Regions from separate parts of the Homo sapiens genome. Here region 1 is linked to region 2. The links come from fine-mapping of genetic effects on gene expression. A gene starts in region 2. The other region holds a variant in brackets. All regions are shown on one strand. Distances are from middle to middle.

Region 1 (4,407 bases), 54 kb after region 2:
TCCCATCAACAGGACAGAATTACAAATCTATTTCCAGGGACAGCTCCATCAAACCCACCATCTGTCAATGGGTATTTCATAATTTATTTGGTTTGATTACTAAAGATTCAGGCATTTTTAAAATTAGGAAGTGGGAGAAAAGGATTAGGAGGTCTTCCTGGACTCTTTGTGCTATATTAAAGTATCCTCCTGATATAACGCCGCGGCCTTCAGGCTTTGGAGAAGAGTCAAGTAGCAAATATCCATGTTTTGATCCCGTTCCACAACATCATCCATTCCACTCCAAAGTTCAAGAGCCAAAGGGGTTATAGAAACAATCTGTTTAACTTATGACTCAAAGCAACCGAGACAGGCCAGATCTACAGGCTAGTTGAGTTTTTTCCAAAGCCACTACCCACAAAGATGAGAAGTCCTTCCTGGACTTCCCAGTGATGGTCCAAGCCCTCCCCACCCCCACTTCATGACGCAACACTCTTGGGGATATTCTGTCACGCCACTTATCACAGTGTATTTAAACTTTGTGTGCCTCTTTACTCCAAATGGAATATAATGTCCTCAAGATTAGGGCTTCTGTATCCTTATAACTTCAGTCCTCAGAAGAGTATCCAGCAAAGAGTATACCTGTAATGTTTATGGTGAACAAAACCTGACAGCTTATTGTGATTTTCAACATTAGATTATCCTAACACCATTTCAGAAAATGTAGGCTGTATGCTCTACTTCGCCATGGATGCATACTGCAGTTACATTCATCTCGACAGATTTTCAAAGATTTTTTCAACAACTATTTGCATAACATATTAACATTAATGAGGCATTTTCACATATGTTATGGAATTAATCCTCACAATACCTGTAAGGAAGGTATTATTATTCCCAACTTACAGGTAAGGTAACTGAGGCTAGGAGAGATCAGATGTGGTAGGCAGAATAATAGCCTTCCAGATATATCAGGTCCTAAGCACTAGAACCTGTAAATGTTACTTTATCAGGAAAAGGGTCTTTGCAGATGTGATTAAGTTACGGATCTTGAGATAAGAGATCATTCTGGATTATCTGTTGGGGCCTAAGTGTATTCTTATAAGAGGAAAGTAGAGGGAGAGTTTATACATACACACACACACACAAAGGCATGGCGGCAAACGTTGGCATGGTGCAGCCACAAACATGATCTCTTCCAGAGCTTCCAGGGGAGCACAGCTCTGCTGACATCTCAATTTTGGCCCAGTGGAATCGATTTTGGGACTTCCAGCCTCCAAAACTGTGGAGGAATAAATTTCTGTTGTTTTAAGCCACAAAGTTTGCAGTAATTTGTTACAACAGCCACAGAAAACTAACACAATAAATATAAATGGTCAGCTAGGAAGTAGATGGCATGGCTAACTCCTTCCTATTTCCTCCTTAACATTGAACGTATGTTTGTGTGACATGCCCAGTCCCAAATGAAGCATTTTATATGAATTACATTTTTCAATACTCACAGGTTTGTTAATTAAGATGTAATTGTAATTGTTATACCCATTAAAAATGAAAAAAAATGAAGGTACAAAAAGGTTAAATTATCCACAATAGCTTATACATGCTTTAGTAAGTTATTTGCACATCTGATAACAAATATGCAAAATAACATTTTTAAAGTTTTAACTGTGTTCAATCTCCCTCCCAAATCAGCTTCCCCTCTCCTTGGATTGTCTTTGTATGTCCTACGAAATATCTCCCCCAACTTCAGTGAGACATTATGAAGCACCCACTGCCTTAGGATATTGGGGCAGAGAGAAGAGAACAATGGAGTGAAATTATTTACTGACATGTGACAAGCTAAAGTGCAGGTACAAGATGGTACAAATTTGGAAAAATAGACTCATCAGTCCATGTCCATCAGTCCAGGAAACAATTTCCTGGCTCAGGAGAAGGGGAGAGAGGGATTCCATGGGCAGGAATGGAGGACCATCAGGAGGCTGTTCAGATTTGCTACCTCAGAAGCTTTGTGGTGGCAGAACCAGCGCTCAGGCCACAGCAGTCTGGGCATCACTCACTGACGGACAAGCAGGAGTGAAGCTCATCTGACTTTTGCTAAGTTCTGTCCAACCCACCTGATAAGGACAATCACCTCCCCTC[C/T]CTCTTCAATGACATGGGGCACTTAAGCAACCACAAACAACTAGGAAGGAGGGCAGGGCCTTGACACCCGGAGGGATGGAAGCAATGGCATCCGGAGAGCCCCTAGGACTAACTGAACTGAACCATTTGGTGGTCTACCTTGTGCTTCTCAGGCTCTCCTCCCTCTTACCCTTAACACTGTGGCAATCAGGCAGCAACCCATTAGACCAAGAATGTATCTAATAGTCCCATTGTGCATAGTAAGCTATGGAGGGGCCTGATGCAATTGGGTTTGTCTGTTGGGAATCTGACATAAATAGTGACACTGATTTATTATCAGTGTCTTCTAGATTTCTCCACAATACTCAGAGATTTTTATAATATATTCGGTCTGTTATTTCATCATGCACCATACTGTGGGGGCTTCTTGGGTCATACTGCAGATATTTCTCTTAACTCATTCATCTCTGATAAATGATTCATTAGTAAACCAACGGCAGTCATGGAGCAATGCACACGTTAGGCTTCCTTCCCTTTACCAATGACATAGGTCCCAGTGCCAGGCCTTGTAATGATTTAAGAGCTAGAAAGGGCAAAGCACCAATTACAGTCCATCAGGCTTGGTCCACTGGGTGAGGAGGAACTAGCAAGCTTAACCTTTTACACTTATGCTAACATGTAGGTCACCAGGATCCACTTACTCAAAGACCTTTTCCGAACCACTTCAAAGAATTAACAGCATCTTCCACCATAAGCAAATAGATCTTTTTTTCAATCTACAGAAACAGGCTCAAAGCACATGCACATATATATATATATATTAATATATATAAACATATACATATAATGTTAAAAGTTCTCTTTCATGCGAACATTTGGGGGATTCTTAAAAGAAGGGAAATGGAATAATATTACACAAGATGACAACATTATTAAGGGCGGGCCTCTAAGAGGCTCTCTATTAGGCTAAAATGGTATGGTGTGTCTACGGCCATACCACCCTAAATGCGCCCATTCTTGTCTAAGATGGAATGGTGTTTACAATATATCTTTTATTTAACACCATTCCACAAATACCTTCATCAATTTTATTTCTTTTTTTTTCTTTTCTTTTTTAGAGATAGGGTCTTGCTCTGTCACCCAGGCTAGAGTGCAGTGGTGTGAACGTAGCTCTCTGCAGCCTCAAACTCCTGGGCTCAAGCCATCCTCTTGCCTCAGCCGCCTGAGTAGCTGGGACTACAGGCACATGTTACTATGCCAGGATAATTTTTAATATATATATATATTTTTTTTTAGAGACAGGTTCTCACTACGTTGCCCATTGAGAACTCCTGGTCTCTAGTGATCCTCTTGCCTTGGCTTCCCAAAGTTCTAGAATTGCAGGCATGAGCCACCTCACCAGGCCAGTTTTCTATTGGATATTATATGTTTCGCCCCTGATGAAGCACCAGGGGGAATAAAATTCAATTCGTTTGCCTTACAGAAGTCACTGGTCCCCTACCTGATGCCCACCCAAGGTGAATTTGCCCTGCCATTGTCATGTCTTCTCATTAAATATTCCTCAGGCTGGGCACGGTGGCTCACGTCTGTAAACCTAACACTTTGGGAGGCCAAGGCGGGAAGATCACGTGAGGTCAGGAGTTCAAGACCAGCCTGGCCAACATGGTGAAACCCAGTCTCTACTAAAATACAAAAATTAGCCAGGCGTGATGGCGGGTGCCTGAAATCCCAGCTACTTGGGAGGCTGAGACAGGAGAATCACTTGAACCCGGGAGACAGTGGTTGCAGTGAGCCGAGATCATGCCACTGCACTCCAGCCTGGGCAGCTGAGTTTGACTCCATCTCAAAAAAAAAAAAAAAAAAAAAAAAAAAAAAAAAAAAAATATATATATATATATATATATATATATATATATATCCCTGACACATTAAATCATTCCAAGACACAGACAAGGCCACTAAAATGACCCATCTCTGCCCTTTGGGATCCCACAGCTTACAGCATATGGAATTCATTAAAGTTTGAGTTCATCTACAGGAGCGTCACTGAGCAGAAACCACAAGTAGCACAGAGCAGAGTCAGACTTCACATTAGTACTCTTCCACTCTCACCATGAGAAAACGATGCTCTTTCTCTTTAAAGGCCTCCCAGTTAGCTTGCAAGCCCCTTCTACATTCCTAAGGGTGAATTACCCTTATAATTATTATCAGTATTGAATATTTACTAAGTACCCATACTGGGTGAGATCATGAAGTTGTTTGACACGTATATATGGCAGAAATATTCCAAGTGTATTTAGCCACTGTTAA
Region 2 (4,407 bases):
TTGTGACCAGTGGCTCCTATAGGTTTGGTGTATATGACAGCTTTTGTTTTGGAATCTCAGAAAAGTAGGGGTTTTCTATGAAGAGGTCAAAGAAAAAACAAGATAATTAGGAATAACTAACTCCTCTTCCCCCACCAAAAAATTTGAGCTCAAGGGACTACATAGCTCAATGGGAAATGAAATTCAACCAAGACTCTAGAAGACTAAGTAGAGTCCAGGGGATAAACAGCAGTAGAGTGGGGAGAGGGACACTGCCTTCTCTTCCTTAAGGAGCATGGAGGTCCTCTGAGGGCTTGGATAGTCAAGCAGCATGTCTGTGCCTGGCAGAGACAACCTCACAGACATCTCTGCAGCTAAGAGGATCCTGGCAAAAGGATGTGAGCAGAGCATTTCCTTCCGGGTTCATAGTTTTTCGGGAAAGTGTGTACCTCCATGATGTACAGTGGCACTCTCCCTCTAGCAGGTGGGTTTCTTTGAATTAGAGTTTAACTTCATCTTGGATTCCAATCAGGAGTCCCTCTTCCTCACTTGGTATCACTCATGAGGTCACATTTACCCTGATATTCCATGAAAACACTTTATCACCCACCTTCTAAACAGCCAATGTCTTAAGCAGTGAGTCTCATTGCTGTACCAATATTTTAACTGTGAAATAGTACAACTTTTCTACTAATAGTTGACATTGTATTCCCTATAGTAATTAGATTATGGGTGTTTCTTTCCCATTTTTTTTGTAATCAGTTTAAATCCTTTTTGAAATGTTAAACTAGTCTTTGGGAAAACATTTTTTGTCCCAAACTTAGGATATGCATTACTCCCTCATTCTTATATTTTAAAATATGTCTACAAATTTAGATCTCATTCTTTGATACCATCTACATAGCTAGTTTTATCTTATTTCCTCTTTTCTTATAAATTGACAACTTTCAGTGATGTTAGGTAAACATTGACTGTATGTCTAAGTCCTTCATCCTCCTGCCTGACTTCATAGGTCCCAAAGGTACCTCTTAGATTTGTGTTTGTGTTAGAGAGTGTCCACCATCTGTCGGCCTCATGTTGATTCTTCTATACCCTTCTGTTTATCAGAGTAGTAGGAAGACTGCAAAATACATTTCCCAAAATCCCTTGCTAGCTGGCATCCAATGGAGGGCAGGACATGAATGAAGGCTGGAGGGAAGAAGCCATTTTTTAAAAATACTTTCTGCTTGCACCTGTGGCAGTGCCAGCAGCAGCAGCCACATGGACAGCAACAGTGGTGACAGCAACAGCAAGATTAGCAGTTTGGGCAAGAACATAGAAGCAAGGGTGCCTGGTGAGCACAGGTTCCTGAGGCGCTGCTCAGGCAGCAGTTCTCCAAAGGAAGCAGCCTCTATGGCACAGTGTCCATGGGCTGTGGGTAAAATCATTTTCCCTATTGTCCTCCAGCTCTATGTGCAATCACAGTTTAGTGCAATTGCCAGTCCTTGGATAACCTAACCCTTCTTGTTTTACTCCTCTAACCCATTTCTATATTTTCATAACAGATTCCTTACATTAAATGCCCTCTGTCAAACACAGATCTGTTACTGTTCTCCTGATTGAGTAGCGTCCAAGGCAAGCTGGTAGGAATTTCAGCATGTGTGTGCAACATCAGCAGATGCAGTGCACCCAGAATGAATTTCATCATATCCTGGAAAAACGTTTGAGGAAGACTCGATTGACAATGTCAACTCTGCACACCACTGTTCTTTATCTCTTGGTAAAGAATCATCAACCTCTCAGATCCAGTGAAAGATTTTATGTTATTTACTGGCATTTAAAGACACTTGTTTGTGCTGTGCTTATTTCCCAGGAGGTCTGCATTCAAATTACTGGGGAAAAAATGCAAGACTTTTGCATCTGTTGAGCCCTTTCTTCTTTAAGGCATATGATTCATCACTCTCATCTCCCTGCTTTTTTCTTCCCCTTAGTCTCCTAAGAATTTTGAATGTATTTTCTTTTGATATTTCTTCTTCCCTTTTCTTTAGGAACTCTTCATCTTTGCAGATAAGCTGGCATTCAGAAGGAGGACACTTGAGAAAGAAAGGAAGCCAGTAGAATAATGCTATCACAGAAGAAAGGATGAGGTCAGTGTGGGCTCTAGTCTTACGCCACAGGTTAATTATCATCATATGTAGCCTCTAATTAAGATAAAATATGGAGAATATCTTATTCCCCCACAAAATGAAAGGGAACTTAGCTTAAACTATGGAATAATTTCATAGGTTACCACAGGCAAATTCATGCCCATACCTCTATATTCAGGAACTCTTCCTTCATCATCCTGAGCAATGAGGAAGGGGACTACTGACTCCAAATTTTGGAAATATTTATGTCATGGCCCATTGCCCTGATGGATTTGTTGACCTTTAATATTTAGAATCTCTGCCTCTATGCATGTTACCCCCGATATCTGCATGTAACACAGATATGGTAGATTTAGAAGATGACACTTGATTAGACACAAAATGTGGAAGAAAAAATATCAAACTGTGTAGCTGAATGTTACCCAGAAGTGAAGAAAGGCATGCAGCCAGATTTCCCCAGCTCTTTGTTTCATCACATGATGTTGCTTGGATATCAGCTTATCAACAGACTTCCACCACCACCACCAGCATATAAACAGAGTCCGCGTAAGAAAACTACACTGAATAGGAATGGCAGCTTTTAAAAGTGGGGGAACTACAGTATAGGGTAAGTTCTTTTTAGGCAAATCTGTCTTTTTGTTTCAGATATATTATTTTGTAGATGTTTCTCTCCCTGAATTCCATGAGTATTTTAATCAAATTTTATCAGGTATAGGCCACTTGAATAGGTAAGATAAATTTATTCAGCAGTAGCCCCAGAAAAGCACACATGAATTGTTGCCATAAGAAAGAGCATCAGTCATTTCTTTATGCTATTTGAGGAGAGAAGAAATCTTTCCAGCTTGAAGCATATTTATTCTCTGTTCTACAGATCTGGAAAATGGGAGGAGGGATATTGAAATGATTTGAGTACAGGATAGAGCGTAGGTGTCAATCACAGAGAATATTACAGGAGTATATCTTGGTTGGTATGGTTTCTGGAGTGCACATTAAAGGAAAGCAGTACTGACTAAAATATTTACAGTTTAATTTAGACATTTATATAGCAGAAACAGTACACACAGAGATGTTGACTAATGTTTTCCTAATAAATTTCTCTTCTGGAAGAATGGAACCTTCGATGTGTGAACTCAAATCAGTCTCCACATGTATTACAATACTCCTTAAGCATGTGTATGTTTATGAACCTATGAGTGTGCATGTGTTTGTGTGCATGAACATGCGTGAAGGTCGGGTAGAGAGAGAAGAAACTGGCATAAAGTGAGAGCATTCTATATTCACGATTTCAGTGAATCAAACACCCAGTGAGGTAGGCATTGTAACTGCTGTCTTAAGGATGAGAGGGCTGAGGCTTACAGAAGGAAAGAAACTCAAGTCTTTCTAGTTCTAAAGGCCATACAGCCTCTATTACAGTTTATTTTCTTCAGTTAATATACGTGCAGGTATTAATAATAATCTACGTTTAGCAGATTGTTACTATGTTTGATTTGCTGTGGTCTTACTTTCTATCATTCAGTAATTCACACTGCTAACAAAGACAAAGGAGTAAGCAGAGGGGAAAATACTCTGGGTTTGCACTTTGTGATTTGGCAACCTATTCCAATATGTCTATTCTTGCTGGATTGTTAAATTCATATTATTATACACACTTCAGACTCTAAACCCTAAATCACCAGGAAAGGAGACTTAATCATAGCAAATGTGACTCTATTATTCTGTATCTTTCTCAGGCAAGTGGAAACATGACAAGTTTAATAGTTTTATAGTACAATGCTATAAAATTGCACATCTAAATTGCAAGAAGTGGAGAATGACGTAAAGGCATACTACACTGCCACTAAAAATCATATTTTTAAGGAATATTTAATGATCTGAGAAAGTGCACAAAATGTATAAATTATGATCTCCCTTTTCTAAAATTACACACAATGTACACAGAAAAAAAAAATAAATAAATAAAAGGAAAGTGAAGCTCAGCATGGTGCCTCATACCTGTAATCCCAGCACTTTGGGAGCCTGAGGTGCAGGATAACTTGAGCCCAGGAGTTTGAGACCAGCCCAGGGAACATAGGGAGATCTTATCTCTACTAACAATTTAAAAAATAATTGGGTGTGGGGTGTGTACCTGTAGTCCCAGCTACTCAGGAGGCTGAGGTGGGAGGATGGCTTGAGCCCAGGAGTTCAAGACTGCGGTGAGCTATAGTCGCACCACTGTGCTCCAGCCTGGATGATAGAGTGAGACTCTGTCTCAAAAAAACATATAAATAAATAAACAAATAAAAGGAAATCAACCAAATGCTAA

Direction of the effects. Alleles are on the strand shown, and positions count from the first base shown. SD is a standard deviation of normalised expression in the study named.
For the expression in monocytes of the gene that starts at base 2,632 in region 2, T is the low allele of the variant in region 1 and C is the other (moderate effect, 0.73 SD a copy in Quach 2016).

What was found. PIP is the estimated chance that this variant, and not a neighbour inherited with it, causes the effect. A credible set is the group of variants that fine-mapping cannot tell apart.
Region 1: its variant is the best candidate, but not a certain one, in a credible set for the expression of FAM216B in monocytes (Quach 2016, PIP 0.90).

What each region holds. Positions count from the first base shown.
Region 1 is chr13:42,832,588-42,836,994 of GRCh38, forward strand. No RefSeq gene overlaps it. Among named protein-coding and RNA genes, the nearest start is that of LINC01050, 22 kb to the left of the region's middle. The variant C/T (reference allele first, on the strand shown) is at 2,119.
Region 2 is chr13:42,778,953-42,783,359 of GRCh38, forward strand. FAM216B (family with sequence similarity 216 member B) reads left to right here and starts at 2,632. Exons shown (of 4, transcript NM_001318932.2): 1 at 2,632-2,712.